Regions from separate parts of the Homo sapiens genome. Here region 2 is linked to region 1. Evidence: fine-mapped expression QTL. A gene starts in region 1. The other region holds a variant in brackets. All regions are shown on one strand. Distances are between the middles of the regions. Region 1 holds the start of ZNF223 (zinc finger protein 223). Region 2 overlaps ZNF284 (zinc finger protein 284).

What was found.
Region 2: its variant is fine-mapped to the expression of ZNF223 in whole blood (TOPMed, PIP above 0.99).

The regions. Positions count from the first base shown.
Region 1 is chr19:44,048,814-44,054,215 of GRCh38, forward strand. ZNF223 (zinc finger protein 223) reads left to right here and starts at 3,223. Exons shown (of 5, transcript NM_013361.6): 1 at 3,223-3,382. RefSeq lists enhancers at 2,889-3,390, 3,210-3,449 and a silencer at 3,110-3,169.
Region 2 is chr19:44,081,482-44,086,806 of GRCh38, forward strand. It overlaps ZNF284 (zinc finger protein 284), which reads left to right. Exons shown (of 5, transcript NM_001037813.4): 4 at 532-624; 5 at 4,233-5,325. It also overlaps the pseudogene RNU6-902P. Among named protein-coding and RNA genes, the nearest start is that of ZNF224, 10 kb to the right of the region's middle. The variant A/G (reference allele first, on the strand shown) is at 3,382.

The DNA.
Region 1 (5,402 bases):
GACAGTAAAGGCCATTATGATGAGACCTCAGTCAGAAATGTGGAACATGTTACTGGAAACTGAAGAAAGCGGGGTTCTTGTTATAAAGGGGTAAATAATTTGGCTGAATTATATTCAGGTCCTAGTGTTTTTTGGTAGGTAGAACTTGTGAGCAATGTAATTGAATATTTAGCTGACACTATTTCTTAACAATGTGTTGAAGTTGCATCTTGAATAATCTTGACTACCTATAGTAAAATGTAGAAAGTGAGAAGTGACTGAAAGCCGGAATTACTAATTAAAAGGTAAAGAGAACTAAATACTTTTAAAATTTGCAGCTTATCTACTTTGGAAAACATGCAAAACCCTGTCCTGGAGAAAACAAGGGTGTGGCTGAACAACTGATTTATGAGATTAGTATGGATTGACCATGTTGACTCAAACCAGGACCTATTGTCCAAGACAATGGAAGAATGACCCCAGAAGTATTTCACAGATCTTGGAGGCTGCTCCTCCCATCAGAGGCCCAGAGCACAGGGACGTGGGCAACAGCAGGGACCTTTGATGCCAGGTGCCGCCTAACATCTCAGGCTCAGCTCCTTGCATACACTACCACTGAGAGTATCAATAAATTTTATCTTTTGTGAATGCAGAGTAGAGTAAGGATACAGCTGTAATTGGTATAGGAATAGCCATCACTCAATTTTCAAGGGGGCATTGAAAATTTGTTTGGCACTATGTGGTTGCTCAGTCACCTTAATTTTTGTCCAAACCAAACTGTGAAACGTCAGCCAGGTGCAGTGGCTCACACCTGTAATCCCAGCACTTTGGGAGGCCAAGGTGGGCAGATCACGAGGTCAGGAGATTGAGACCATCCTGGCTAACACAGTGAAACCCCCATCTCTACTAAAAATACAAAAAATTAGCCAGGCGTAGTGGCACATGCCTGTAGTCCCAGCTACTTGGGAGGCTGAGGCAGGAGAATCACTTGAACCCAGGAAGCAGAGGTTGCAGTGAGCCGAGATCGCGCACTGCACTCTGGCCTGGGCAAAACAGCAAGACTCTGTATCAAAAAAAAATTGTGAACAGTCTTTTTTTAATTTTTTTTTATTTTTTTTTACTTTAGGAAAATGGATACAGGACATTAGACTCTTTTTAAAAAGAAAAATATAGGTCGACAGGTCAATGTATGTTTATTTGGGAGGACAAAAAATATGGTTTATCTTCAAAAGAGAATTTTAGATGAATTGTTTCCTGATTTAGCTTTATACTATTATTAATGTCTTTCAACTAACATATGCCAGTTTTCAAATTGTTTCCTATAATGAAGATATTTTAACCAAGAAATGGAAAGGAAGAAACTCTTAATAATAAATCATGCTCCGTCACCTATAGAATCTTCTCCAGTTTTATGGCATTGAATCAGACATTGGGTGTCAGATTGATACCAATGCCAAGCTCTTCAACAGTTATACTTGCTTTAAGATACTTAGCAATTCACTAACTTCTCTGAAATTTAGCGTTTCTACATCTAAAGTAGAAATATTACTACCATGAGAATGTTAAATGTAGCTTTTCCATGAGGACACAGCTTCTCCATTGGTGGCTGGAATTTTGTTTTTCCTGTCAAACCAGTGGTACCACAGCATCTGGACTAGGGCTGTAACTGAGAACCACCATTTTTCTAAGAGACAGCTTATTTATTTCTCTCTCTTTTCTCATTCCCTTAGTTCCCCACTTCCTATGTAGCCCTTTAAAAATGCAAATATAGACTTTTACCTCCCCTTCACCAGACACTTCCTACAGGGAAAGTTCATCTAACTGTGTGCTCCAAGCCAGAACTCTCCTCCAGAATTAACAGTCAATTTACAAACTAAAGCATGCTGGCCTCTGAACTCTCACTCACCAGGAGGTTGCCTGAAGAGACAACAGTTGAAAGCGTGCCTGCTACTCTCTCCCTTCTGGTTACAACTTATTTCTGCCCATGAAAAAGCCAGCTCAACTGCCTAATAGATAAGGCACCAAGCCAGCACACAGACCCCTTCCCTCTTCCTCCCCTACCTTTTAAAAGTGCCTGCTTTCTGCTCTAAAAGCCAAGCCGTGCACTTAAAGACAACACCTGTGCTACTTCCCCTACGCTAGCTCTAGAATAAATCACTTTCTTTATACCAGATCTCCCTCTTGTTAACTGGACGTTGCAAACGGGAAGCCACTGATCTACTTTTCAGTTACAGGGGCTGATGCTTTCCTGGCTTCTCATTGCCCCTCCCAACCCATTCTACCTGGCTCATTCTTTAAACCAGTGGTCCCCAACCGTTTTAGCACCATGGACCGGTTTTGTGGAAGACAATTTTTCCACGGACTGGGGAATGGTTTCGGGATGAAACTGTTCCACCTCAGCCATTAGATTCTCATAAGGAGCGCCTGACCTAGATCCTTCGCACGCACAGTTCACAATAGGATCCGCGCTCCTATGAGAATGTAATGCTGGGCTGATCTCACAGGAGGTGGAGCTCAGGCCATAATGCTCCCTCACCTGCCGCTCACTTCCTGCTGTGCCGCCCGGTTCCTAACAGTCAGTGGACCGGTACAGGTCTGTGGCCCTGGAGTTGGATATCCTTGCTTTAAACCCTGAGCCTCCTTTCAGCCATCTGACGGCTCAACAGTCACTCTATCTAGCTCCTTGAATATTGTATCTCCTCGCTTGTTCCCTGTCCAAGAACACTCCTGTCAATCATGGGAGACATTTAGACTTCATAAATTCTTTCTATTCAATATTTTCGCTCGAGGACTCTGGGAAGGACAACTGTCAGGGTAACAGTCTGCATTCCCCACCAGGAACCTGGGGCTATGAAATTCGTTCCCCGTGGGTGTTGCGGGAAGTGTAATCGAGGAGCACCATGTAGTCGCAACACTTGAGCCTAAAGGGTGAGGTGATGGACATTTTCCTTTTGCATCTGAGGCTCTGCAGTCCAGACACCTTGCGGGATTCCTGATACTTCAGCTCAGGTAGGCGTTTCCGGAGAATTCTGGGAAGAGTAGTCCATTTTACGGGAAGTGTAGTCCACTGGCTCGTGGAACACTGGGTATTTTGGCTCTGGCAGGTGAACCGTTGAATTCTGGGAACGATAGTCCAGACACTCTGCGGAGTCCCGGGCCCTTTGGCTCAGGGGGGCGGGTCCGGGGAATTCTGGGGAGTGGAGTCCAGACACTCTGGCGCAGAGAGGACACTTCCGGTCTCCTAGTCTGAGGTTCCTGCTTTAATGACCGGGGTAGTTTGAGCCATTTCTGCGTCTTGCAGGACATTTTGAACGAACCCCCTTTGCTTGAGGCTCGCAACCACCCGATGATCGATGATCGTCTCAGGGGAAAAGAAGCCTTGGCGAAGAGCAGAGGTTTAGAGGTGCGAGGGCGGGGAGGGTGTTTATTGTTCCCGTCAGCGGAGCCTTCTGGCGTCGGGGGGCTTTGCTCGCCTCCCGGGGGGTGGGATTGGGGTGGCCTTGTGTGCCCTGCTCTGAGGGTTTCCAGGACTTTGACCTCGCTCAGTCCGCCTCCCTACGTATGCAGTGTGTACACTCTTTCTCGCAGTGTGATGTGGAATGTTAATGTCTCTGTACTTCCCATTGCTGTTCTTTAAAATGGTGCTTATAGGGTCATCCTAATAGAATTGTTTTGCGAATTGAAAGAGATAATACAAATGAAAGCCTTAAAGTTGTCCCTGTCACTTGGTGAGTGGTCTCTTGTTGCCTGATATTTTAAAACGTTTGATATCATTTCAAAGCTATAGAAAAATTGCAAAAACAGTATAAGAAATTCTCATATACCCTTTACCCAAATTTGCCAAGTGTTTACATTTTTCCTGTTTGCTTTGTTGATGACCATCAACCAAATACCACCAGGAACATACCTGTAACCAGAGACAGCTGATTGGTAGCTTTCTGCAGCAAGGAAGCCCACATACCACGGTAATTGTGGGGTGTCTTGGTAAGAGGCATTTAGGAAGGGCTGGTTATAGGGTTTCACATAACATGGTAGATAATATTGGATATTATGTTAAATAATACTGTTACCGATTACATGTCAGATAGATGTGTTAAAAGAATACTAGTATTTGTAGTGTACTTACTAGATAGTGTTGGATAGCATATTACCTAGCATCATGTTATCTAATCTGCAGTTCCATATACGAATTTGTTAAATTTTTCATTTAAAGTCCTTATGACTGTCCTCTGCCCCACCCTTCACCTATTCAAAGTCCAGTTTATGCGTTGTCTTTAGCTGTCACATTTCCATAGTTGTTCATTTGGAGTTTGATATTGAAGGGGGCCTGCCTCTCCACACCTGTGGGTGTTTCTCACAAGGTGGAAATGAGAAACTGAGAAAAGAAATAAGACACAGACACAAAGTATAGAGGAAGAAAAGTGGGCCCAGGGGACCGGCGCTCAGCAAATGAGGACCTGTACCGGCACTGGTCTCTGAGTTCCCTCAGTATTTATTGATCACTATCTCTACTATCTTGGTGAGGGGGATGTGGAAGGACTATAGGGTAATGGTGGGGAGAGGGTCAGCCGGAAAACATGTGAGCAAAGGACTCTGTCATAAATAAGTTTAAGGAAAGGAGTTGTGCCTGGATGTGCACATAGGCCAGATTTATGTGTGACTTTACACAAACATCTCAGTGCAGTAAAGACCAGTATTGCCGCCAGTATGTCTCACCTCCAGCCATAAGGCGGTTTTCTCCTATCTCAGTAAATAGAATGTACGATTGGGTTTTATACCGAGACATTCCATTCCCAGGGATGAGCAGGAGACAGATGCCTTCCTCTTACCTCAACTGCAAAGAGGCCTTCCTCTTTCACTAATCCTCCTCAGCACAGACCCCTTATGGGTGTCGGGCTGGGGGACGGTCAGGTCTTTCCCTTCCCACGAGGCCATCTCTCAGGCTGTCTCAGTGGGTGGAAACCTTGGACAATGCCCAGGCTTTCTTGGGCAGAGGTCCCTGTGGCCTTCCGCAGTGTATGGTGTCCCTGGTTAATCGAGACTGGAGAATGGCAATGACTTTTACCAAGCATACTGCCTGCAAACACATTTTTACCAAAGCACATCCTGCACAGCCCTAAATCCATTAAACCTTGAGTCAATACAACACATGTTTCTGCGAGCACAGGGTTGGGGCTAGGGTTACAGATTAACAGCATCTCAAGGCAGAAGAATTTTTCTTAGTACAGATCAAAATGGAGTTTCTCATGTCTTCCTTTTTCTACGTAGACACAGTAACAGCCTGATCTCTTTTTCTTTCCCCTACAGATATATTTCACATTTAGGTTTAGATTATACATTGTTGGTGGGGATTCCACAGGAGTGTTAAGATGCCCTTTTCTTTTTTTTTTTTTTTGTTTGAGACAGTTTTGCTCTTGTCACCC
Region 2 (5,325 bases), 33 kb after region 1:
AGGGCAGATCACGAGGTTGGGAGATGGAGACCATTCTGGCTAACACGGTGAAACCCCGTCTCTACTAAAAATACAAAAAAAATTGCCGGGCGTGGTGGCGGGCGTCTGTAGTCCCAGCTACTCAGGAGGCTGAGGCGGGTAAATGGCGTGAACCTGGGAGGCGGAGCTTGCAGTGAGCCGAGATCGCATCACTGCACTCCAGCCTGGGCGACAGAGCGAGACTCCGTCTCAAAAAAAAACAAAAACAAAAACAAAAACAAAAAACATAAATAAAATAAAACCATCAGATCTCGTGAGAACTCATCCACTATCACGAGAACAGCATGGAGGAAACTGCCCCCATGATTTAATTACCTCCCACCAGCTCCCTCTTATGACATGTGGGGATTATGGGAACTACAATTCAAGATGAGATTTGGGGACACCGCCAAACCATATCAGTGTTCAAGTTCGAGTGTGCAGTGAGAACCTAAATTTCTAGTAAATTTTACCTAAGATGTATTGGGATTAAGCATGTGACTTTGTTCACAGGGCATCAACTTTCCCACCGAGATACTTTTCACTTCCAAAGAGAAGAAAAGTTTTGGATCATGGAGACAGCAACCCAAAGAGAAGGGAATTCAGGTAAGAACCAAGCAACGATGCATCCTTGTACGTGACCCTTCCATCTGTTTTACTTCTGTCCATTGCCCAACTCCATTGCCCTGGTATAAATGGCCAAACCTGTTTCCTGGATTCTTACCTCCTTCCTGCTGGTTGTCCTGCTCCCCCACCCCCTCTTCCCACCCTGACATCTGTTTTCCTCATAGCAGCCAAAGTGATCCTTAGGGAATGTAAGTCAGATTGCCATTCCTCAGCTTAAAAGCCTTTATGGCTTCTTATTTGTGTTAATGTTACAACTGCTTTAAGTGCCTTTTAGAGACCCTTGATCTGCTCTTCATCCCCTACTGCCTCTCTGACTACATCTCCATTTTCCAGCCACGTTGTACTCCCTGCTGTTTCTCCATCCTGCCAAGGACACTGTATTGCCTGTTGCTGTCACCCAGTGACCACACACTTAGCAGATTAAACAACAAACAATTATCTTTCTGTTCTTCAGATCTGAAGTCTGACACATCTCACTGGACAAAAATCAGGGTGTCCCTAGGGCTTTGTTCCTGTCTAGATGTTCTTGGGGAGAAGCCTTCACTTTAATTTACCAATCCCTAGGCACTGTCCACACTCCTTGGCTCTTGTCTCCCTTCCTCCATCTTCAAAAGCAGCTACATTGCATCTCTAACCATTCTTCCATAGTCATCTGCCACCCTTCTTAAGCCTCTGTTTTCCACATTTTGGGTCCCTTGCGATTGGATTGGTCACTCCTGCATAATCTAGAATGACCTTCTTACTCTCTCTTTAGCTGACTAGTGACCTTAATTGCATCTGCAGCCTTAATATCTCTTGCTATATAACATAACAGGTTCATAGGTCCTGGGAATTGGATGTGGACATCTTTCAAGGACCATTGTTCTGTCTACTACAGAAGCTTCTGTCTTAGAGTTTATATATGCTCTTCTTTCTGATTGGAATACTCTTTCACCTCAAGACCTTCTGACCCTTCCTTTATTCTGGTCTCTGTTCAGTTTTAATATCATGAGAAAGGCCTTCTCTGACCACTCTATTTAAAATACCAGCCGGGCGTGGTGGCTCATGCCTGTAATCCCAGCACTTTGGGAGGCTGAGGCAGGCAGATAGCATGAGGCCAGGAGTTTGAGACCAGCCTGGCCAGCATGGCAAAACCTGACTCTACTAAAAATATAAAAATTAGCTGGGTGTGGTAGCACAGTCCTGTAATCCCAGCTACTCGGGTGGCTGAGGCGTGAGAATCACTTGAACCCAGGAGCCAGAGGTTGTAGTGAGCTGGGATTGTGCCACTACACTCTAGCCTGGGTGACAGAATGAGACTCTGTCTCAAAAAATAAATAAAGAAATATATATATATATATATATATATAGAGAGAGAGAGAGAGAGAGAGAGAGAGGGAATGGAATACCATCCTATCTTTACCCTTCTGGTGTTGTCTTATACTGTGTCTTATATATTTCTATTTAGCTGTCATCTCTACCCACTGGAATGGAATGTCTTAAGAGGAGGACTTTTAGCTGTTCAATTTTTATTTTAAGATTCAGGGGGTACATGTGCAGGTTTGTTACCTGGGTATATTGTGTGATGCTGAGGTTTGCATTGCAAATGATCCTGTCACCCAGGTACTGAGCATAGTACCCAATAGTGGTGGCAGGATAACCCTCAGGTTTTAAGGCTATGTGTACCGGTGTTAGAGGTAGTGGTGATGGGCTGGGTGGGCCAGTCCTGAGGCCCCCACATGGTGTGTGCAGGTGAGTGTCAGCGGTGATGGTGGCAGCAGGCTTGTAGGACCTGTCCTCAGGTCACTAGGAGGAGTATACAGATGCCAGTGGTGGTGATCAGGGCAGGGAAATCCTTAGGTCTCCAGACAGCATGCTTGGGCACCTGCGGCAGGGTTCTGGGTCTGTTGTAAAGCTCCCTGCATGGTACATGCTCATGCCTGGGGCAACCAACATGGCAGGGTGATCTCAACAGCCCCAGGTGGTATGCTTAGGTAGTGGAGGAATGACGCCAGGCCAGGTGAGCCTGTCCTCAGGCCTTTCAGTGGTGCAGGCAGATGTAGGCTGTGGTGGAAGAGGCGGCGTGATCCCTAGGTCCCCAGATGGCATGCTCCAGCACTGGCAGCACACAAGCTGGGTCTTTGTCAGGTCTCCTGTTTGTGCACACATGTGCCTGAGGCAACACAGGGTAGAGCAATCCCCAGGTCCCTCTGTGTCATGCTCTGGCACTGAGATGGGCGGTACCAAGTGAAGTGGGCTTGTCCTGTGCACGGGCACAGGTTGTGGTGGGCAGTGCAAGGGACTCCCCATGCCTTTAGGAGGTGTGCTTGGGTGGCAGTGGCAGAGTGTGCAGAGAAACTTTCCTCAGAATGAGAACACATATGAGTGTACAGTGGCCCTGCTGCTGGGGGTGAGGTAGCATTGCCGTTAGAGGCAGCAGCCCCAGACAGGCAGCTTTCAAGCTCTGGTGAGTGCACACACTTTGGGTCCCTTTGTACTGTACTGGGGGCAGCCTCCCTGGTGTCCTTCACGGCCCATTCCCTAGAGTATGGGACACTATGTGGCCTAGATTGCTGGGGACTCTGCCATACTGCTGGGTCTAACAGGCATTATTGTAACCCTCTGGGTGGATGTGGGGGCATGTCCATGGGGCTTCAGGGATTTGGAGATGCAAAGGCTGTTGGGCCCCAGGGCAAGATGCAGTCTGGTGGGGGTGCAGCTCTCAAAATAGCGCTGTGCCATAGCTGCTTGAGTCTC[A/G]GGAAGTGTGTGGGTCCCATCATGAGTACCCTCTCTGAGTGCCATTGCATGGACTCCAGGTAGCCCCCTGTGCTAGTCTCAGGGCCCACAGGGGTCGAGGGCCTCTCTCATGGCTGATTGCTGGAGTGCACAGCGGAAATGTAAACCACTAGGGCTCTCTCACTTACCCTTTCCCAGCACTAGGAGCCTTTCCCGGCTTTCAGGTGATCACGGCCAGAAGGGCTACCTCCCTTCGCTCTCCTTTTGTGCTTCGGGTGTTTCCTGTCACTTCTCTGCTGAATTCCAGTGATCCCTCTTAGATGCTATTTGATGTATGAGTATCTATTTGCTTTTTAAATTTTTTAGTAATAAAATATATAGAACACTTCATGAATTTGCATATCGGCCTTGTGCAGGGGCTGATCATTCCAGTTTTACCATATGTGCTGCTGAAGTGAGCACTACTCATTATTTTGGCTCTTTGTGGAGGACGCAAGCTCTGGGTGTCTTTAGTCAGCCATCTTGAAGTCCTCCTACCCTTAACGTTCCTTCTGATTCATCACATATATAATTTAGTAGTTACATAATATACCATGCAAGATTTTAGACTAACTAGGAAATTGGTAGAAATAGTAACACATTAACTGTATTATATTAATATTTTAAATTAAGTCTTTCATTTCTACCACGTATGAGACATTATGTCATTCAAAATTGGTTTCGTGACAACGAGAGACCGTGGTGCACTTGGAAAACACAAACTGTACCTTCCTTGTATTCAGTAAAGTTTCAGGCCATGTCCTAAGTGAAATCCTGAAAACACTGAACAAAGGTTTCACTTACCCACATCTCTTAATTCTGTGTCCTTATAGGAGGCAAGATCCAAACTGAGTTGGAGTCTGTTCCAGAAACAGGACCACATGAAGAGTGGTCTTGCCAGCAAATCTGGGAACAAACTGCAAGTGAGTTAACTAGACCTCAAGACTCCATAAGTAGCTCTCAGTTCTCCACACAAGGTGATGTCCCCTCCCAGGTTGACGCAGGACTATCTATAATTCACATAGGAGAGACACCTTCTGAGCATGGGAAGTGTAAAAAATTCTTCAGTGATGTCTCCATCCTTGATCTTCATCAACAATTACACTCAGGAAAGATATCCCATACATGTAATGAGTACAGGAAGAGATTCTGTTATAGCTCAGCTCTTTGTCTTCATCAGAAAGTTCACATGGGAGAGAAACGCTATAAGTGTGATGTGTGTAGTAAGGCATTTAGTCAGAACTCACAACTGCAAACTCATCAGAGAATCCACACTGGAGAGAAACCATTCAAATGTGAGCAGTGTGGGAAAAGTTTCAGCCGTAGATCAGGAATGTATGTTCATTGCAAATTACACACAGGAGAAAAACCTCATATTTGTGAGGAATGTGGGAAGGCCTTCATTCACAATTCCCAGCTTCGGGAACATCAAAGAATCCATACTGGGGAGAAGCCATTCAAATGTTATATATGTGGTAAGAGCTTCCATAGTAGATCAAATCTTAATAGGCATTCCATGGTCCACATGCAAGAGAAATCATTTAGATGTGATACCTGTAGTAATAGCTTTGGTCAGAGATCAGCACTTAATAGTCATTGCATGGACCACACAAAAGAGAAACTATACAAATGTGAAGAATGTGGAAGGAGCTTCACTTGTAGGCAAGATCTTTGTAAGCATCAGATGGACCATACAGGAGACAAACCATATAATTGTAATGTATGTGGGAAGGGCTTCAGGTGGTCCTCATGTCTTTCAAGACATCAGCGGGTCCACAATGGAGAAACAACATTCAAGTGCGACGGATGTGGGAAGAGATTTTATATGAATTCACAGGGCCATTCACATCAGAGAGCCTATAGAGAAGAAGAACTGTATAAATGTCAGAAGTGTGGGAAGGGCTACATTAGTAAGTTTAATCTTGA